3 linked regions of the Homo sapiens genome follow. The protein of the gene in region 2 interacts with the protein of the main gene of each other region in a biochemical or structural test. Each region holds a gene or a part of one and is shown on either strand. Other genes may lie near its edges.

Region 1 (7,414 bases), on a different chromosome or scaffold from region 2:
AGTAGCCTGGCTTTTCTTTGTACTCTTTCTCAGGGTATTTTATCATTAAATGTATTAAGTGATACCTGATGGACCTAAATAATCAAAGAAGTGAAGGTTTTATAAATATATGTGAGAATCAATTCTGAAAGCATAAGCACAAAACAAGTCTTCAGATAAATATGAGATTAAATAAATGATAACATAAATGTCATCAATTTTCTTTTACATCTATTAGTCCTTCTTTTAATTTAGCAGAAAATTAAAATTAATAAAAAGCTAAAAATAAACCCCACGGCAATAAATATTTTCAAGAAAAGCTATATAATAAAAGAAAAGTTGGTAAAATTGCTTTTAAAAATGTTCTCTTGTCTGATCAAGATGCCACACAATAAAGCATAAAATGGATAGTTAACTGACTTTTACAAAAGTAAACCTGGATAATTTTGGTTTGTAAAAGTAGCAGGAATTTTTTAAAGACAAAAATAATTTCTTTCACATCTTTTCCCAGCTTTAGAGCAGATAAATTTATGTTATGCTAATTTGTTTAATCTCTCATTTGTATGTTTACTTTGTTTTAGAAAAAATAATATACCCTATTAGATATAATTACATATTTATAATTACATATTTTTATATAAATTTATAATTATATATTTATAATTACACATTTATAATTATATATTTATAATTACATATTTTATATAAATAATACATTAAATTAAATTTATATAAAATTTAATACATTAAATTAAATTTATATAAAATATAAATTTTATATAAATAAATTAAATTAAATAAATAACTACATATTTATGATTACATATTTTTATATAAAAAATATAAACCAACAATTTGCTGAGTTACGGTATTCTTTGCTCATTATATATTGATATATTAATGTAAGATTTCTGTATTCTGGAAAATATATTATTACTCATGTCTTTGATTTGAGAATGTATGTGTGGAGAAATTATAGGTAGCATGAACTCTTGATGCATTTTTTTCCAGTAAGTTTCTAAGAATAATTATTGCATGTATTCCATAGTAATTTATTTTAAAATATTTATATTTATAAGAAAATGATTAATTACTCAATATTTTTATATAAAAATGTCTTGCTTATACAATCATCCTTCTATGTGGCACATTGGTTCCAGGACCCCCAAGGATACCAAAATCTTTCGATGCTCAAGTCCCTGGTATAAAATGGTGTAGTATTTGCATATAACCTAGGCACATCTTCTACCTTAAATCATCTCCAGATTACTTATAATATCTAAATCAATGTAAATGCTATGTAAATAATTGTTATACTGTATTGGGTTTTTTATTTGTATCATTTTTATTCTTGTGTTGTTATTTTTTACTTTATTTTTTAAGTGTATTTAATTCATGGTTGCATCAATCCATGAATGCAGAACCCATGGATATGGAAGGCACACTAGACATGTCATTTAATATAAATTGAAGTAGAATCTTTGTCGATAAAAATTGTAATGTATTGATAAAGAAAACAAGAAACAAAATGTGTTGGAATTTGGCTTATATACTGTCCTCTCACCTATACTTCCCAACTGAGATAGACTCTTCCAATGAAAAAGGAAATCTGGAAGCAATTGTGTAATAATTTCAGACCTTTTTACATTTTTTGTGATTTAACATATCCACTCAGTAGAGTCAATGCTTTACCATTTATCGGTAATCACTTATCATATATAAAGTTGCAAACTTTCTTGCTTCTTATATTTGCTTTTCCTTAAATAATAATCAAGAAATTATTCTATTATATTGTATATTTTTCAAGAAATCTTGTTAGTGACTTTTTAATAGAACTTTTAAGGTTACCTTTTGTTAATATTTAATCACTCCTCAAGCCTATTTAGCCATATTAATATACTTTATATTCTCATCATTCTCTTTCTGCCTACCTTCATTTAATTAAAAAAGATGTGATTATTTCTTAATAAAATCAAGTTTTTACTGATTAAATAGTGGGGCGTTTTTATATTGTGAAATCAATTTCCCAATCACAAGAAAACTTCTCAGCATAGCACTTAGCCGAAGCATTTAGTGCCATGATCACAACAAACATCACCCATTATTTATTCAATGAATTAAGAAAACAGAGTTCAATGCATAGACTCTGGTTAGAGTTCAACCTCAGATTCCCAGGAATAGGTGTCATTTAAGAGAAAAACATGATAGAAAATGTATGCTTCTGAGAGAAGTTGTTTGTTTCTATTTTAGTTATTTGCAGTCCCCTGCTTCTTTCCTTTAACCCTATCTTTGGTTTTGCTGCTCTGGAGAAGGTAGAAGACAAATAATCTCAATTCTACTAAGCTACTTTGACTCCTTCTTCGGAAGACTGAATGTAAGGTAACCTTGTAAGTACTGAGACAGGCTAGAGCAGAATAATGGGCTAAGTCAGGCAAAACCCTTTCTTATATAGAAATAAGGAGAATGACAAATGGTCTTTTTCATTTTATTTCTTTGTTTACTCACAGGTAGTTTAACCCCTTGTCTTTATAAATTTCCTGACCACACCTTGAGTCATGGATTTCCTCCTATACACCAGCCTCTTCTGGCAGAGGACCCCACAGCTGCTGATTTCAAGCAGGAACTCAGGCGGAAAAGTAAATTGGTGGAAGAGCCAATAGACATGGATTCTCCAGAAATCAGAGAACTTGAAAAGTTTGCCAATGAATTTAAAGTGAGACGAATTAAATTAGGTATGTGCTTGTTAAAGGCAACAGGAAAAAGAACTTGGTTTGCAAATCTTTATTGCTGTTAAATCTCTTATATATTGCTAAAAAGTACAAGATGATTCTCATTCTTCATCTCTACTGTGGACGTAGTTAGTCGTTATGGAAATCCTCCAAAAACATTTGTTTCCTTATAATTTCTTAAGAGCCTAAATACATAATTTTTAAATTAATAATACTCTTTCAAAACTTACCTCAACATTAGTTTTGAAGTGCCCATTTTTATCTATATTTTATTTGAAATTTTGAATAGGCCATACATTTATATGATTCAAAAGTACAAAAGAGTATAAGTGACATGTATCCCTTCTGCTTGCTTTTTCTGTATATCGTTGTTAGTTCCTTGTGTATCTTTCCAATGATATCTCATGGATATATAAGTAAATATATATGGAAATATATGTATTGTGCCAAACATATGTATTATTTGAAGTTTTCAGTAGTAATTTTTCTAGAGCTCCTTTTCCTTTGTGGGGCTGTCAAGTTCCACTTTATGAATATACTGCAATTTATTTGACCAGTCCTCTACTGATGAAATTTAGGTGGTTTCTGATCTTTGGCTGATAAAAACGATACCACGATGATTAACCCTATAAATGTTATTTTGCACTCATATAAATATATGCGCAGCAAAAATGTTAGAAGCACAATTGCTTGATCAAAAGTATGTGTACTGGTAATTTTGATAGATGTTATCAAACTGGTCTCTAGAGAAGTTGTACCAAATTTTACTACTACCATGAGAATCTTTTTCACCATCCTCAGGCTATATAAACTCCAAAACGGCATGAGTTTTTAAAATCTATTTCTTTTTATTTTCTCCTTAATGATATCTCCAGCATCTAGAAGAGTATAACTATAACACAAAATAAATAAATGGTGGTTGAAAGAAAAAATATGCTGTTAATCTTTTAGATCTTTGCAAATCAGACAGGTCAAAGTGACATCTCACTGTTTTTTCATTTAAAATTTCTTTTATTATGAGTGTAAAGTATATTATTTAATATGCTTGACAATCATTTATATTTCCTTTTCTGTGAACTATCTGTTCAGAGCCTTTGCTCATTTTCTACTGAAGTGTTTTTAAAATAAAACAACTATAACAATTGACTTTGGTTAAATTGCATAAAATTGTGTATTTTTTTAATGGATTGAAATAATAGTTCAAACCTCTGCACTTGCAGAATGAACAATAGATAATGTAATAAGAATATTTATTGATGGGCATCATATGCAACCATTTTATACATATAGGTATATAGCCTTAGGTCCTGAAATAATATGTAGCTATTACATGTGATAAGCACAGTAGTAGGAATCTTTGTGAAATTCATTTTCAGTTTTCTATCTATATTACTGTGAATGTTTCAAATTATATGTTATTTCAGCTGTACTCTAAAAATGTTTGCGACAAACAATAAGGATCATTAGTCTGAAGACAGAGGCATTATCAAAAACTATAAAATGGGCTCAGAAGTATACATGAAATGTGTAATCATAGCCTCTTAATAAATATGGTTTTAGGGAAAGTGACATAATTCTTAGTTTTATTTAGTACCCTTCAACAATATCATTGAATCTTTTAGAGTTGAAATAAGAATGTTATGATATATAACCGTATATTTTATGCATTATAGTTAATATATTAAAATTTTTTGAGCATATATTATTTGATAACTAACAATAATGATAAAAAAGCCATAATTTTCAAGTGCCTTATGAAGTGTTTAGGACACACCTAAACACTGGTTAAATATTATGAATGGCAGATGTTTCTATCTGAATTCTTTCAGTGACTAGATAAAAGTAATTTATTAACTAGAAGAAATATGTTTTGAAGTATTGCACAAGTACTTCAAAGTATAATGAATCTTACTAAATAATTCTGATTTGCCAAGAATATATAGTTAAAAAATAGTGTGTAATAGTTGACAAAGATACACAGATTTGTGTGACAATGAACCAAAATTAACATTTCCTGGAAAGTTGGAGCTGATGGTCTTTATTGTCCCTTCACAGGATACACCCAGACAAATGTTGGGGAGGCCCTGGCAGCTGTGCATGGCTCTGAATTCAGTCAAACAACAATCTGCCGATTTGAAAATCTGCAGCTCAGCTTTAAAAATGCATGCAAACTGAAAGCAATATTATCCAAATGGCTGGAGGAAGCTGAGCAAGTAGGAGGTACTAAATTGTGTCTCTGAAGGCTGTGCTGTGTTTTAACCTAAAAATAATGGCTTCAATAAGTAGGATTAATGCTAAAGCAGGAGGTTTGAGGGGTTTTTTTCCGCCTTTTCTCTTTGAGATGAAAAATAAACATTTTGTTATATCACACTAAAACAAACAACAAAAAAGGAAGGGCAATGTAAGTGTGGAAATAAATTTATTGAGGATAGAATAACCTATATAAGGAAAGCTTGTTGGCATCAGCATGAAGGGGTAAAATACTTATTTTTTTACACATCCATTTTTTTCCTCTCTTTTATACTAGAGAAATTATATATGAATCACATTTGTATCCTAATATTAGTGTACACAAAACATTTGCACACACCAGTCTTCCAAGAAAATAATATAAGCAATTGCTAGATATGCAACTTAATGAGCTAAAATTATCTACTCATACAAATGTCAGAGCCTGATAAAGAGTGAGGTTTGAGAGTATTTACAGCAAGCATTCCAACAAAAGTAAAGTGAGGATATTATTTGTAGAAAGTGTCTTTGCAAGGTTAATATTTATTTCTGCGTTGAGATTTTTCTCTAAGGTCTGTAATAGAAAAAGACTGCAAAAATTTAAGACAAAAATGTCTAGCATTTTTATTTTGCATTGTTTTATGAAGAAAATTTGAAATCCAAATCAGATCGTTTTTTATAAAAAGTCTACTTTGTGTTTGTAATTATCTCTCTTTTCCACATTATAGCTTTGTACAATGAAAAAGTGGGAGCAAATGAAAGGAAAAGAAAACGAAGAACAACTATAAGGTATTCTTTATATTAAAAGTTACTAGAGGACAAAACTGGTATTTTATAAATGGAATGAGCATTTGAGTGTAATGCAGGTGTAACATAACATATAAATGTAAGGTGAATTGGGAGGCCAAGGCGGGCCTGAGGTCAGGAGCTCGAGACCAGTCTGGCCAACATGGTGAAACTCTGTTTCTACTAAAAATACAAAATTTAGCCGGGCATGGTGGTGGGTGCCTATAATCCCAGCTACTCAGGAGACTGAGGCAGGAGAATGGCTTGAACCTGGGAGGCGGAGGTTGCAGTGATCCGAGCTTGCGCCACTGCACTCCAGCTTGGGCGACAGAGCGAGACACCGTCTCAAAATAAATAAATAAATAAATAAATAAATAAATAAATAAATAAATAAATAAATAAAAAAAAAATAATAATAATGTAATAACTTAATTTTGAGAAATGGAGAGCTAATAATTTTCAACATTTGATGGAAAATTATGTATTGTTTGATTCAAGAACACTTTTACTCCAAAATTTTGAATACAAACAGAAAGAAAACAATCATTTCTAAGAGACTGGCCATATCTTCTCCCCTTTTAGCTATAACTTATTGCTCTGACAATGTAGTATCCATGGTGTCTATAGTATTTAAAAATGTGACACTAGTAATCAGTGTTTCGGTCTCTTCAAGTTCAACATGACCTCTTGCATTTCAACCCAGAAAGATTGTTCATTGATCTTTTTGTAGTTTCTGTGAGACATGCTTAGCAAATACTAAAAGACAGGTTTTGTTTTGGTTGGTCAGTTGTTTACTAGAGATTTCCTTTATCGTAAACAGCCCTAAATGATTTTGGGGAGATATTTAGAAATGTCTAGGAAAATGTTCATTTTCTTCTCAAGAACTCAGTGCCCTCTGGTGGCACAAAGTGGGAAAAACATAGAAAGTCTGGGTCCCCTACTTAATGCTTTCCGTGACTCTCGTGTAACTCTACCTTACATAAGACAAAATATCTACATATTTAACACATTATACATTTGTCCTTGTTAAAGTGTCCTGCAAGTGTGTTCAGAGTTTTTAAGTTTCCTTTTCATGTTAATATTGAGGAAATTCAACCTACCTTAATTTTGAGCTGCCAAAAACTTCACTAAAAACAACAAAATTTCACCCCCTATGTCCACCCCCCGCCAGCATTGCTGCTAAAGATGCTCTGGAGAGACACTTTGGAGAACAGAATAAACCTTCTTCTCAAGAGATCATGAGGATGGCTGAAGAACTGAATCTGGAGAAAGAAGTAGTAAGAGTTTGGTTTTGCAACCGGAGGCAGAGAGAAAAACGGGTGAAAACAAGTCTGAATCAGAGTTTATTTTCTATTTCTAAGGAACATCTTGAGTGCAGATAAGATTTTTCTATTGTATAATAGCCTTTTTCTCCCGTTTCATTCCTTTCTCTTCCTCAACAAAAACAGAAATTACTTGGTTGACTTAAAATCATTTTATATCAATAGCTTTTACAGAAGCTTTACTTTTCCACTTTTTTTTAAAAAAAAGAAACCAACAATTTAAATTATATTGATGTTATTTACTTAAAATAATTATTCTCAGAAGCCACATTATCTATTTTAAGCCAAATATATTAACAGTAATAAAATGATCTCTCTGTCTCTCCCGCTCTCTTTCTCACACACACGCAGACATATGAGTATGGGTTT
Region 2 (7,685 bases):
TATACTCAACAGATAGAAAATAAAAAACACACCTGTAATCTGAGCACTTTGGGAGGCGGAGGTGGGCAGATCGCCTGAGGCCAGGAGTTTGAGACCAGCGTGGTCAACATGGTGAAAGCTCATCTCTACTAAAAATACAAAAAATTAGCTGGGTGTGGTGGCACATGCCTGTAATCCCAGCTATGCAGGAGGCTGAGGCAGGAGAATCACTTGAACGCAGGAGGCGGAGGTTGCAGTGAGCCGAGATGGCGCCACTGCACTCCAGCCTGGGCAACAGAGTATGAGACTCTATCAAAAAAAATAGAAAGAAAAGAAAAGACAAGACTAGCCATGTGGCTATCTAGGAGAAAAGCATTTCAGGTAGAGGAAATGGCAAGTGGAAAAGCCTTGGGGAAGAGTGCGCTTGGTGTTTTTTTTTTTTTTTTTTTTTTTTTTGAGTCGGAATCTGGCTCTGTCACCCAGGCTGGAGTGCAGTGGCGCGATCTCGGCTCACTGCAAGCTCCGCCTCCCGGGTTCACGCCATTCTCCTGCCTCAGCCTCCCGAGTAGCTGGGACTACAGGCGCCCGCCACTACGGCCGGCTAATTTTTTTTGTATTTTTTTAGTAGAGACGGGGTTTCACTGTGTTAGCCAGAATGGTCTCGATCTCCTGACCTCGTGATCCGCCTGCCTCGGCCTCCCAAAGTGCTGGGATTACAGGCGTGAGCCACCGCGCCCGGCCTGGTGTTTCTAAGAATGACAGTGAAGTCAGTGTGGCTAGAATTGGTTGAGTAAAGGGGGAAGAGTATGAAATAAAGTCTGAAAGGTGTTGTGGGAGAGCTAGATCATGAGATCACGTACTTTGAGATGGGGAGCCATTGGATGTCTTGAGTGAATAGTGACATAATCCAACTAGTTTCAAAAAGAGTACTGTGCCTGCTATGTAGAGAATGCACTGTTGGGAACAAGGACAAAGACAGACGCAGTCAATGGATTCTTGAGATGTAGGGGGCCAACTCACTGTCTTTCCTCATGCCAGCATCTAAGCACTTCTGCAACCTGCAGGCTGGGCAGTGGCGCCTCTGAGTCTTGCTGACTTCACAGCTTCCAGCAAAGGGGCAGGTGGGACCAATGCTTTTGCTGACTGTTCTCCTGTGAGACACAGAGATGTTGTTAGAGTCTGGGATGCAATGGATAGGTGAGGGGCTGAGATGACATGGTCTAAAAGACCTGGGAATCTGGTGAAATGGACTAATCTGAGCTGTGCCCAAAGGTCCCCAGGGGTGGATAGTATCCAACACATCTCAAGCATTTCCATGGCAACACAGGATCACTCCAGAAAGCCTAGTTGATGTAGTACTAGCTAGGTGCTTCACAGGCAGTGGGTACATAATAAATGCTCTTGACTAATGGGCTGTGTCCATCAGACAAACATTCAGCTTTCCCTCTGTTATGCCACCAGTTTATACAGTGATGTGTTTGGCAAGATGTAGGATGCCAGCCACAGGGTAGTTAGACTCTAAGATAAAGGAGTAATGTAGCTGGACAGGCTTGGGCACCAGCGAGGGTGTAAAGGCTGACTAATAGGGAGTTTGGTTTGGAGGGCTATTTCCATTGGGGAGGAGACTCTCACCTGAAGAAACCCTTGCAGCCCTCACAAGTCAGCGCATTAAAGTGGTAGCCTGTGGCTTGGTCCCCACATACCACACAGTTCCTCAGCTCATCTTCCCTACTGGCCATGACGTCACGTGTTGGGGTGGCTGTCACAGACTCCTGAATGTAGGAGGGGTCAGCAGTCAGTTTTGGGCCACCCTTGACCCTTTTCTGTCCCTTCTAGAGAGTCTCTTTCCAAACCAAACCAAACATGCCCTTGACTTGATCCCTGGCGTTATCTTTTGTGGTTTTCTTTTTCTTTTTCTTTTTCTTTTTTTTCTGACACAAGTTCTTGCTCTGTCACCTAGGCTAGATCTCTGCTCATTGCAACCTCTGCCTCCTGGGCTCAAGCAATCCTCCACTTCAGCCTCCTGAGTAGCAGGGACTACAGGTCCAGACCACCATGTCCAGCTAATTTTTGTTTATTTATTTATTTATTTTTTTTGTAGAGATGGGGTTTTGCCATGTTGCCCAGGTTGGTTTTTTTGTTTATTTTTTTTTGTTTATTTGTTTGTTCTGTTTTTTGAGATAGAGTCTTACTCTGTTGCCTAGTGTTGCCTAGGCTGGAGTGCATCATAGTTCAATGTAACCTCACACTCCTGGGCTCAAGGGATCCTCCTGCCTCAACCTCCTGAGTAGCTGGAACTATAGGTACACACCACCACACCAGGATATTTTTTTCTTTTCCTTCCTTCCTTCCTCCCTCCCTCTCTTATTCCTTTCTTTCCTTTTTTTTTTTTTCCCTGAAATTGAGTCTTGCTCTGTCACCCAGGCTGGAGGGCAGTGGTGCAATCTTGGCTCGCTACAACCTCCGCCTCCCAGATTCAAGTGATTCTCATGCCTCCGCCTCCTGAGTAGCTGGGATTAAGGTGCCCGCCACCATGCCCAGCTAATTTTTTATTTTTAGTAGAGATGGGGTTTCACCATATTGGCCAGGCTGGTTTCAAATTCCTGACTTAGGCCTGGTGCAGTGTCTCATGCCTGTAATTCCAGCACTTTGGGAGGCCGAGGTGGGCGGATCACCAGGTCATGAGATCGAGACCATCCTGGCCATCATGGTGAAACCCCGTCTCTACTAAAAATACAAAAATTAGCTGGGCATCGTGGCATGTGCCTGTAGTCCCAGCTATTTGGGAGGCTGAGGCAGGAGAATCGCTTCAACCTGGGAGGCAGAGGTTGCAGCGAGCCGAGATTGCGCCACTGCACTCCAGCTTGGGCGACAGAGCGAGACTCCATCTCAAAAAAAACCCAAAAAAACAAAACAAAAAACAAAAAAACAAAAAAACAAATTCCTGACTTCAAGTGATCAATCCTCCCACCTTGGCTTCCCAAAGTGCTGGGATTACAGGCATGAGCTCCCGCGCCTGGCCTCTTTTCTTTCTTTTTTGTAGAGATGGGGTCTGTTATGTAACCCAGGTTGGTCTTGAACTCCTGGGCTCAAGCGATCCCCCCACCTTGGCCTCCCAAAGTGCTGGAATGACACACGTGAGCCACTATGCCTAGCCCCCAGCATTATCTGTATTTTATTACATTTAGTCTTTGGTCCCCAACAGATTTCCTACCTGCTTCTCTTAGGCAGCATGTCACCTGCAGGCCACAGAATCTGGTATGGAATGCCTCTCCCCAAACTCCCACGCTGTTGCTGGTTTTCCTCTGATCTCAGGAGTTGCCAGTGATTGGAGTTAGGGATTATGACCCGTAGTATCTGGAAAACAAGAGATGTCTGTTTTATGTGGCCTCCAGTTGCTCTCAGTGACTGTGGGGTTAGGGCACAGACCCTGGACTCAGGGCAAAGGCCTGGGTGGGAGGTTTTCCCAGCATGACAAAAGTGCTGGTTGGTGGCACACGGGGAGGGACTCCAGTGGGTGGGAACCTTGTGACTCATTGGAAGCTGCTGCTTATTAGACTCATCGAGATTTTCCCTGTTGATGAGTTTAAGGCTACATCTGCAGCCTTCTGTGTACAGAGATCCTGAACAAGCTGGGAAGAGAGAGAGAGAGAGAGAGACAGGCAGACAGACAGAGCAAGCTTTTTCACACGCAGTATGTCAGTACTAAAAGAAGAGGTGTGACAGTTCCACAAGGCTCCCCCAAAAAAAGTTTTTAAGAGACTAGGGGCTGGGCACGGTGGCTCACACCTGTAATCCCAGAACTTTGGGAGGCTGAGGCAGGCAGGTTACTTGAGGTCAGTAGTTCGAGACCAGCTTGGATAACATGGTGAAACCCTGTCTTTACTAAAAATACAAAAATTAGCTGGGCATGATGGCACATACTTGTAATCCCAGCTAATTGGGAGGCTGAGGTGGGAGGACTGCTTGAACTCGGGAGGCGGAGGTTGCAGTGAACTGAGATCATGCCACTGAACTCCAGCCTGGGCACAGAACAAGTGAGACTCCGTCTAAAAAAAAAAAAAAAAGAGAGAGAGAGAGAGACTACGATCTAAGTAAGAGCTTACGGAAAGAGCCCTCTCACTTCCTAACTAGGGAGGGCTGAGAATCAAATCAGAGTGACCACAGGGCACAGTGACATGCCCTGTACATCCCCCTACTCTGGAGACAGGGAGAGAATGGTTTGAGCCCAGGAGTTTGAATCCAACCTGGGCAACATAGCAAGACCCTATCTCTAATAATAATAATAATAAAGTGCTATTTTTAAAAAATATTTTTTTTTTGGCTGGGCGGGGTGGCTCATGCCTGTAATCCCAGCACTTTGGGAGGCCGAGTTGGGCAGATCATGAGATCAAGAGATCTGGCCAACGTGGTGAAACCCTGTCTTTACTAAAAATACAAAAATTAGCCAGGCATGGTGGCGCACGCTAGTATTCCTAGCTACGTGGAAGGCTGAGGCAGGAGAATTACTTGAACCCGGGAGGCAGAGGTTGCAGTGAGCCGAGATCGCAGCACTGCACTCCAGCCTGGGTGACAGAGCGACCACACCCAGCTAATTTTTGTACTTTTAGTAGAGCTGGGGTTTATGTTGACCAGGCTGGTCTCGGACTCCTGACCTCGTGATCCGCCCGCCTCGGCCTCCCAAAGTGCTGGGATTACAGGCGTGCACCTGTAATAATAGCTACTGTGCCCGGCCTATTTTTCTTTGTTTTGCTATTATGTCTTCTGCTTCTTCATTTGCATTAAATTATAATTAATGTTTCTCTAAAGATGAGTTAAAACCCCAAGTGCAGGCTGGAGTCATACACACACACACACACACACACACACACACAGAGAGAGAGACTGAGTTAAAAAGATCCTTGTTTAGGTTACCAGAATGAGTTGGTAGAACCCCTAATCTCAAGTGGTATAGCATCTAACTATGCATAACTTTGTATTTTGAAATAAACTGAGTTCCAGAGAGCACAGATGCTTGGATCTGTTCCTTGGGAGATGGTAAGAATATTTATGTGTATGTATCTGTTGGTGTCTTTGTGACTCTGACAATTCATACTAATTTATTCAATCAACAAATATTGACCAAGAATCCACCTATGTCTTAGATACTAGAGTTAAAAGATGAGTAAGATGCTCTCCTACCCTCATGAATTTTAATCGCTAATGGGGGAGACAGACCTTTACACAGATATAAAGAAATATGGTCAGATCAGTGATGGTGCCATGCACAGAGCATTATGGCACTGAAATAGCGGGGCACCTAATTCTGCTTTGGAAAAGGGGTGTCGAGGAAGAGGCAGGAGAGGCTTTCTGGAGGTGTGGCAACTGAGTTGACTTTTACAGGGTAATGATGAGTTAGCTAGGGGGAATATAAAAGGCAGTTCAGGCAGAGGGTGCAACCTGAGATGGTCAAGAAGCCAGATACAAAAAGGTAGATATGGTAGAACCACAGACGGGCCTCTCTTACTGGAGTATAACATTTCAGGCTGGGAGTGGGAAGAGATAAGGCTGGAGAGGTGGGATATAAGGCTGAGATGTAGGCAGATCACAGGAGACCTCATGTGTCAGGCTAAACACTTTGAGTCCATCAGGAAACTTTGAAAGAGAAAGCTGTGAAATGACATTGTCATGTCTATATTCTAGATCATTTACTCTGCTGGCTGTTGGATTTGAGGGGGTAGGACTGAAGGCAAAGAGACCAGTTAGTAAGCTATTGCCTGCCGGGTGTGGTGGCTCATGCCTGTGATCCCAGCACTTTGGGAGGCCGAGATGGGCAGATCATGAGGTCAGGAGATTGAGACCATCCTGGCTAGCGCGGCGAAACCCCGTCTCTACTAGAAATGCAAAGAATTGGCTGGGCACGGTGGCGGGTGCCTCCCAGCTACTTGGGAGGCTGAGGCCGGAGAATGGCGTGAACCTGGGAGGCAGAGGTTGCAGTGAGCCGAGATTGCACCACTGCATTCCAGCCTGGGCAACAGAGGAAGACTCCGTCCCCCCTACCAAAAAAAAAAAAAAAAAAAAAGAAGAAGAAGAAGAAAGCTATTGCCATAATGTAGGTGAGAGAAGATTAAGCTGGAGCTAAGATAGTGGAAGGATGTAGGGGAGGAGAGGGTTTTGAGAAATACATGGAAAGTGGAATTATTGGAATTTGGTGACTACTAGAGTGCCTGGATTAAGAAAGAGGACGAGGAATTAAAGATGACTCCAGGTTTCTGGCATGGGTGACTGAGTGGATGGTAGTATCGCCAATTGGGAGACAGACTACAGGAGAAGGACAAGGGCCCTCCATACTTGGGTGCCAATCCATTTTCACAGTTGACAATTTACTCCAGCAATAAGTTATCAAGTGTCCACTCATGATTAGGCACCAGAAGGAGAGACAAAAGAGAGTCCCTATTACAGAGACACTTCCAGATTAATTATGAAGACTGAATACATAAATTGAATTCCTAGGTCTTAAAAGAAAATATATAATCAAACCTTAAATGTTTGATTTAAGGTTGTGGTAAAGACTATGTATAATATTATAGGTATTAATTGCTCCCTTAATTTATTCTTCTTGTGTACCCAGTATGAGCAGAGTACTATGTAAAAATCCTTGCCTGTGTTAACACTGTAAGATAGGTAATATCATCATTTTACAGATGAGAAAACTGAGGCTCAGAGTGTTTAGATAGCTTATACAAGGGCCAATATACCCAACAGTTTATTAGATGACTCCACTTGGATGTCACATAGACACCTCAAATTCAATATGTCTCAAATTGAATTGTCAATCCCCCACAAACTAACTTTTCCTATGTTACCTAACTTGGTGACTAGTCCAATGTGAGAAAGTGGAAAGAACATGGGCTTTGGGGTCATATAGACTTAGGTTCAAATTCTGACTGGCTCTTGCTAGTTGAATTACTTATTTTTTGCCACTTCTCTAATTGTTTGACGTGACTGAGACCCAGCTCCATGGGGCCCTGGGAATCAGATATCATCAGGCTGAGCCAATACCGGACCAGGGAAGGGAGGCATACTTCCTCTTCCTACATCAGCTTTGAATGCTTAGGGAGAGGCTAGGCTAGAAAGATGTTCTGGTCCAGGGATGCCCTTCACCTGGGGCCAGGGATTACACCGAGCCTTGTTCTTCTTGGAGAAGTCCACCTTGAAGTTCTTTGAGATGGGGTTGCCTTGGGAACAGACTGCTTTGAGTTTGCTCTTCTGTGTACACAAACCCTCCCCTGGCTTCAGGGTCACTGCTGTAATGCAGATGGAGAGTGGAATCTGCTGCAGGATGCCCCTGGCATCCATGGTGAACAGGCTTTCAGGGTTAACTGACACCCTCACCCTCTTCCAACATGCCTTTTCCAGGCCAGGGTCTGAAAAACACCTGTGAGGATTGTGACCTGATGGGTTAAGCTCTCTGAATTTCAGTTTTCTCACCTGGAAAAAAAAAGGGTTAAAACACTCATTATCCAGGTTTGCTGTGAAGATTAAACAAAGTAATAAAGTAGTAAAATGTAAAATTCCTTACACGGTGCTTGAAATATGGAAGGAAATCAACACATATTCATTCTCTTACCTTCTTCGTTTCCTTCCCCTTTTACTGCTGTCTTCTCCCAGATACAAAACCAGAAACTGGTGAGTCACCTAGTCTCCTTTCTCTCCCTCACTCCCTA
Region 3 (7,220 bases), on a different chromosome or scaffold from region 2:
GCACATCGCAGCCTTCTCATACTTAGGAACACTAGACAGCACGTCAACTGTACACTTGGGGCCATTTCAAACAGCGACATCACAAACAAAAACACACAAACATGCAAAAAATGTGGCACTAAGTACACCACAAAAGGGACACTTGTTTATAGCACAAGAGCTGAAACCAGAAAGCAGCGTGTCCTCCTGTTTGCCCTTGGCTGGAAATGTGCACGTTGGGTGACTCAACTTTTTCACTATTCTACGTGCATCCATATATGACTGTGAAAGTGTCATGGATATTGATTTGGAAGTTACGCAGACATTATTTTTCTTTTTTCTTTCTTTTTTTTTTTTGAGATGGAGTTTCGCTGTTGTTGCCCAGGCTGGAGTACAATGGCGTGATCTTGGCTCACTGCAACTTCCACCTCCCAGGTTCAAGCAATTCTCCTGCCTCAGCCTCCCAAGCAGCTGGGATTACGGGCTCTTGCCACCACGCCCAGCTAATTTTTTGAATTTTTAGTAGAGACGGGGTTTTGCCATGTTGGCCAGGCTGGTCTCGAACTCTTGACCTCAGGTATCCACCCACCTCGGCCTCCCAAAGTGCTGGGATTACAGGCATGAGCCACTGCACCCGGCCTTTTTTCCTCTTTTTTTTTTTAAATGAGCCAAGGTCTCTCTATGCTGTCCAGGCTGGTCTCAAACTCCTTAGCTCAAGTGATTAGGCTGGTGTCAAACTCCTAAATTCAAACTCCTAACCTCACACCTCAGTCTCCCAAAGTGCTGGGATTACAGGTGTGAGCCACCACACCCGGCCACAAACATATTTTTTTAAAAATTCTTTAATTATATAATTTTTAAAATAAAGATATAGGGTCTTACTGTGTTACCCAGGCTGATCTGGAACTCCTAGCCTCAAGTAATCTTTCTGCCTCAGCTTCCCAAAGTACTGGGATTATATGCATGAGCCACCATGCCTGGCCACAAACAAATTTTTTTTAAGAATTATTCAATGTGTATAATTTTTAAGCAAACAGGGCCTTGCTCTGTTGCACAGGCTGATCTGAAACTCCTAGCCTCAAGCGATCCTCCTGCCTCAGCCTCTCAAAGTGCTGGGATTACAGGGAAGAATTTGCAAATTTAGAACTTGTGAATAATGAGAATCTACTGCACTTTCTTCCTGTTTCTCTCATTCGGGGCTGGCTGAATTCTGTCTTACTCATATTTTATCTCTAGCATCTGGAAAACTGCCTGGCCCACAGTAGGCTCTCAATAATAAATGTATTTCCAATGAGCGAATGAGTCAATTCAGTGGAAGTGCTCAGCTCACAGCAGTGATAGCTAGTGTTTGTGAAGACACACCACGCGCCTGCCCCGTGCACGCTGTCCTGGTCAACAAGGGAAACAGCAGAGTATTGTTCTTTTGCACCTGAGCTCAAGAGCAGACTGCCTGGGTTCAAATATGGGACATGCTTCTTATTAATTAATTATATAACTTCGAGCAAGATCATTGGCCTCTCTGAGCCTCAGTTTCCTTGGCTATCAAATGCAGTATTCATAGTTCTACCGTGGAAGTTATGGTCAGGAGTCTAACTTGGCCCTGCACAGAAAGCCTCTAGCATAGGGTGAACCCTTAGTAAACAGTAGCTTTTATTGTGAATAATTCCCAAGGCAACCCGATTTTCACACCCATTTTGCAGATACAAAAACTGAAGCTGAGGATGGTTCAGTGAGTTTCCAAGGTCACAAAGGAAGGGCTGCCTATGGGGGGGAATCTATGCCCATGTTAGTAACACTGCTGTTATATAAACATAAGGGGTCAGCGGGGCGCAGCGGCTCATGCCTATAATCCCAGCACTTTGGGAGGCCGAGGCTGGAGAATGGCTTGAGCCTAGGAGTTTGAGACCATCCTGGGGAATATAGTGAGGCCCTATCTCTATAAAACAAACAAACATAAGGGCTCATTTTTACTAGTTGTAAAAGGGCCCTTTTACTAGTTGTAAAAAAGGCTCGTTATAAGGCCTCTCACTGCCTAATCAGCTAGGTTTGCCAAAATGAGGAAGACAGCTCCAGCCAGTCTCCTGATCTTCTCTGGGATCAGGGTGGGGAGGAACCCCCTTCCTACCCATAAACCCCTAAGAGTCTTCGCTCACATTCCACACTGGTGTCTTTCTGTTCCTTGTCCACTTTCGAGTTCAACCCTTTCAGAACCAGCCCTACTGTGGGGGGTGGGGGATGGTTAGTTTGTTATCTTGGGTTTGACAGTACAAAGGCAGAGGCATTTCCTGCTTAAAAGGCACATGAGAAAGGAGGAGGAGGGCGAACTGGAGGAATAGGAGGAGGAGGGAATCATCAGCATTCTGGGTTAGAACAAACAAATGTCCTCCGTTTTTCTCCAACTCCTTAGATCAAGGGTCCTCAAATTTGGCTGCCAGCTGGAATCTCTTGCAAACATTTTAATACCCAGATGTCCAGTCCCCCACCCAGACCAATCACATCTGAGTCTCTGGGGGGGGGCGGGGGTGGAACTAGGGCATCGGTATTTTTTTAATGCTTCCCAAGCAACGCCAACGGGCAGACAAGTTTAAGAAGTGGTGCTCTGGACCTTATCAGCACTCGGCTGCCACCCTGGAGTGGCTCTGGGCGACAGTGGCTGCTTTCCGCTTCGAGGACGCCCGGCTTGGGGATTCGGGCATGCTCTGGGAGGCGAGGGCTGGGGAGGATGCGAGCGTGCCAGCGACCTGGTGCTCTGCCTTGCTCTAGGCCCAGCTCCGAGGCTGCGGGTCTCTGGGTCCCCCCCACGGCTACAACACGTGCTGCCGCCCCGACTCCTCCGGTTATCTCTGCAGACCGCAAGCGGTGCCCAGCGGCCGCCCCGCTGTCCACCCCGACCTCAGAGGCTCCAGGGAGACGCCCGGGGCTCAGGAATCCTACCTTGGCTGCCGGCGCTGCCCTCCAGTCCCCGGAATCCTGGGACTCAGGTTCGAGCTGTCGCTGTCGCTGTCGCTGCGCCTGTGAAGCGCCCACTAGAGCGCAGGCGCCACCTAGTGGGCGCGGGGCGGCTGCGCAGGGACCGCGCTGGCAGGCGGGAGCGCAGTCCAGGGCGGAAATGCAGCCAGGGCTTCTTCCCACGTGGGCGGTTTTCCAGCGCGCCGCCAGCCCTGTGGCCAGATCCGGCCTGGGGCGGGACCACCTTCACCCGCTGCGGGGCACTGGGATCTAAACTTGGTGAACTTTCTCTTGGGGCACGGAGGGACCCCTCGGCCTGGTATCCATCCTCCGGTTTTCCGGGCTGAGCACAAGGATCTTTCCCTTCATCCAGCAGCTTTCAGTGCACCCCACCTTTGGCACTGCTTCTCTTTTAAATGTGCTGGGACCATCCGAGGCTGGGGTTCTCTCCAACCCAGGGAGGCCCTTCGCCTATCAGCAACCATTTTTTCCTGCCACCCCCTAAACCGTCCCTGAATGAGAGAAACAGCCTGCTCTGCTGGCTTGCTCTACAGAGGCCAGGACTGGTGGAGGATGGGTGTGTGCCAGCGACCTCGTGCTCTGCTCTGCTGGAAGGCCTTCTCTGAGCAGTGGAAGGGGAAGGGGCGGCTTAAGGGAATTGTGTTTTTTGTTTTTTGTTTTGTTTTGTTTTGTTTTTGTAGAGACAAGGTCTCTCTATGTTGCCCTGGTGGCTCTTGAACTCCTGGTCTCAAGCGATCCTCTCACCTGCAGCCTCCCAAAGCACTGGGATTACCGGAGTAAACTATGGCTCCCAGCTGCCTGGTATTCTTTCAATGAAGACATGCCAAAACGCTTACAAATATGGTGGACATTTAATGGTTTATATTTCATTTATGTCTTCATTTAACAACGATTAACTGAGCACCTACTATGTGCCACTTTTCTACAATCAAGGGATACAATGAAGAACAAAACACAAAAATCTCTGCTTTTGTTGAATTCACATTTAATGTAACACATGAATACTTTTAACACACCCAACGATCTAATGCAAAGCGATTGAGCTCGTTGTGAGATAAGTAGAGGATTTATTAAAAATATCTATATTTAGGGCCAGGCACCGTAGCTCACGCCTGTAATCCCAGCACTTTGGAAGGCTGAGGCAAGAGGATCGCTTGAGGTCAGGAGTTTGAGACCAGCCTAGCCAACATGGCAAAACCCAGTCTCTACAAAAAATACAAAAATTAGCCGGGCGTGGTGGCAGGAGCCTGTAATCCCAACTACTCCAAGGCTGAGGTGGGAGAATCCCTTGAACCCGGAAGGAGGAGGTTGCAGTGAGCTGAGATCGCACCACTGCACTCCAGCCTGGGTGACAGAGTGAGACTCTGCCTCAAAATCAATCAATCAATCAATCAATCAATCTATGTTTAGGGCGCCAAGGGCAGACATTCCTGGTGATGGATATAAGCATTACAGAGTTCTATGGGAACGTCTTCACGTTTTCTTGTAATCCTGGCAGTTTATCTCTGTGGCAACATTTGGAGATAATGCCTTCAGTGGAAATTTCAGGTGATTTGTGAAAGTTAGGCCTGCAATCCTCCTTTCCCCCTCCCCCCGGCCCCCACTCTGCTCCCCCAGGACGCTCTGTCATTGTTCTAGCCCAGTGTGAGTTTGTGTGTGAGTGTGTGCCTATTTAACCTTTGGACTCTCTGTACTGGTGTAATCTGGTCAAAGTGAATATCAAGGGCAGAGGAGGACAAGGAGGAGCAGGAGGAGAAGGAGGATGAGGAGCAGGAGGAGGAGCAGGAGGAGGAGGAGCAGGAGAAAGGAGGAGAAGCAGGAGCAGGAGGAAGAGGAGCAGGAGAAGAAGGAGCAGAAGGAGGAGGAGCAGGAGGAGGAGAAGGAGGAGGAGCAGGTGGAGGAGGAGGAGCAGGAGGAGGAGAAGCAGGAGGAGCAGAAGGAGAGGAGGAGCAGGAAGAGGAGGAGAAAGAGCAGGAGGAAGAAGAGGAGGAGAAGCAGGAGGAGGAGGAGGAAGAGCAGGAGGAGGAGGAAGAGCAGGAGGAGGAGCAGGAGGAGGAGGAGAAGGAGCAGGAGGAAGAGGAGGAGAAGCAGGAGCAGGGGGAGGAGGAGGAGGCAGAGCAGGAGGAGGAGCAGGAGGAGGAGGAGGAGGTGTCATCTGTGGACAATACCTGGAAGGGCAAGGGGTGGTGGGTGTCACTAAAAGGAACCAGCCCCAGCTACTTCACTGCAGGCTGGTGCCCTGGTGAAGGTGAATCAGTCAGAGGAGTGCTGACTGCCCATGGTAAGTACCAGCTGCCAGACAATTTCCCATTCTTTCACTTTAAAGTGTCTGAGTCATGTCCAGACCATTCTTGCCCCATCTTTGCAACAGCTCCCTCCCCACCACTGTGCCCCAAAGCATGCCTGGGCAAAGTCCTAGATTACAACCTCTGGATTCTGGCATCACCTGATGAGATTAAGTCTTCCTAGTGACTTTCTCTTCTGAGTTCTCCTGGCATTTTTCTCATTCTGCTAATCACAGTGTTTCTGGAAACTGCAGAGTTATCAACAGATCTGTTTTCTCCATGGAAAACAGGAGTTTTGGTAGGCTGAAGTATGTAAATAACAATAATAAAATATTTATAACGTGTTAGACACTAACAGTTTTCTTTAAGAGATGGGGTCTTGTTCTGTCATCCAGGTGATCATTGTTCATTGCAGCCACAAATTCGAGCTCAAGGGATCTTCCCACCTCAGACTCCCAAGTAGCTGGGACTGCAGGCATGTGCCACCATGCCTGGCTAATTTTTAAATTTTAATTTCTTTTTTTTTTAAGAGATGGGGTTTATTGTTTTTTTTTTTTTTTATGTTGCTCAGGCTGGTCTAGAACTCCTAGCATCAAGCATTTCTCCCACCCCAACCTCCTAAGTAGCTGGGATTATAGACACAAGCTGCCATACCTGGCTCATGCACTAAGGATTTTAGATTGACAATTTAGTTTAATCTTCACAGTAATCCTACAAAGTAGGCACTGTTACTCTCCCCACTTTCTCAGCGAAGAAACTGAGACTTGCGATGTTTAAGTAACTTGCCCTAGGTAGAGGAGTTAGCAAGTAATGTACCCAGAACGTGAATCTGGATTATCTTATTCCAAGGCACATGCCCTGAACACCTCACTACTGTTTACTAAGCACCTACTATGTGCTGGACGCTGTGCTTTATATATGGAACAGGATAGGCAAGGTACTCATTATATATATATATATATATATATATATATATATATATATATATTTATACTTTTAAGTTGTAGGGTACAGGTGCACAATGTGCAGGTTTGTTACATATGTATACATGTGCCATGTTGGTGTGCTGCACCCATTAACTTGTCATTTACATTAGATATATCTCCTAATGCTATCCCTCCCCCCTCCCCCTACCCCACAACAGGCCCCGGTGTGCGATGTTCCCCTTCCTGTGTCCAAGTGTTCTCATTGTTCAATTCCCACCTATGAGTGAGAACATGCGGTGTTTGGTTTTTTGTCCTTGCGATCATTTGCTGAGAATGATGGTTTCCAGCTTCATCCATGTCCCTACAAAGGACATGAACTCATCATTTTTTATGGCTGCATAGTACTCCATGATGTATATGTGCCACATTTTCTTAATCCAGACTATCATTGTTGGACATTTACTCATTTTTATCCCTTTTGCTTTCTTGTTCTGTTCACCCTTTTCTTCAAAGGGAAAATTTTGTTTACTTTTGTTTTTTAAAATAAATTCATAAAATTATGTTATGAGATGTGACCTAATTTTTAGTAAGAAAGGGAATATTTATCTTCTAGAGTGAGTCTCCATTAAAGAGGGTGAGGATCAGGCCAGAGGCAGTGGCTCACACCTATAATCCCAGTACTTTGGGAGGCCGAGGCAGGCGGATCACGAGGTCAGGAGATCAAGACCATCCTGGCTAACACGGTGAAACCCTGTCTCTACTAAAAATACAAAAAATTAGCTGGGCATGGTGGTGGGCGCCTGTAGTCCCAGCTACTCAGGAGGCTGAGGCAGGAGAATGGCGTGAACCCGAGAGGCGGAGCTTGCAGTAAGCCAAGATCGCACGACTGCACTCCAGCCTGGGAGACAGAGCGAGACTCCGTCTCAAAAAAAAAAGAGGGTGAGGATCCTCTGTGGTCTAAAGTGGATGGAGCTAGAAATGGTGGCACTGGAGTCATGGGCAAGATGGTGTCAGGTCCCCAGCAGAAGGCGTAGAGAAGGAAAGAGGGAGAAATGCCAAA

What was found. Proteins that work in one complex are often made in the same cells at the same time.
Region 1: the proteins of NR1I3 (region 2) and POU1F1 form a complex in vitro, tested with the Homo sapiens proteins (one study listed by BioGRID).
Region 3: the proteins of NR1I3 (region 2) and CHD9 form a complex in vitro, tested with the Homo sapiens proteins (one study listed by BioGRID).

Annotation. Positions count from the first base shown.
Region 1 is NC_000003.12:87,259,585-87,266,998, reverse strand, and holds part of POU1F1 (pituitary-specific positive transcription factor 1), read left to right. Parts: intron 1-2,486; coding exon 2,487-2,711; intron 2,712-4,763; coding exon 4,764-4,928; intron 4,929-5,665; coding exon 5,666-5,726; intron 5,727-6,894; coding exon 6,895-7,105; 3' UTR 7,106-7,414. UniProt on the Homo sapiens protein: Transcription factor involved in the specification of the lactotrope, somatotrope, and thyrotrope phenotypes in the developing anterior pituitary. Specifically binds to the consensus sequence 5'-TAAAT-3'. Activates growth hormone and prolactin genes.
Region 2 is NC_000001.11:161,234,848-161,242,532, forward strand, and holds the start of NR1I3 (nuclear receptor subfamily 1 group I member 3), read right to left. Parts: upstream 3,357-7,685; 5' UTR 3,214-3,356; coding exon of another isoform or gene 3,194-3,213; intron 1,752-3,193; 5' UTR 1,719-1,751; coding exon 1,612-1,718; intron 1,131-1,611; coding exon 1,000-1,130; intron 1-999. UniProt on the Homo sapiens protein: Binds and transactivates the retinoic acid response elements that control expression of the retinoic acid receptor beta 2 and alcohol dehydrogenase 3 genes.
Region 3 is NC_000016.10:53,050,771-53,057,990, reverse strand, and holds the start of CHD9 (chromodomain-helicase-DNA-binding protein 9), read right to left. Parts: upstream 3,001-7,220; 5' UTR 2,914-3,000; intron 1-2,913. UniProt on the Homo sapiens protein: Probable ATP-dependent chromatin-remodeling factor. Acts as a transcriptional coactivator for PPARA and possibly other nuclear receptors. Has DNA-dependent ATPase activity and binds to A/T-rich DNA.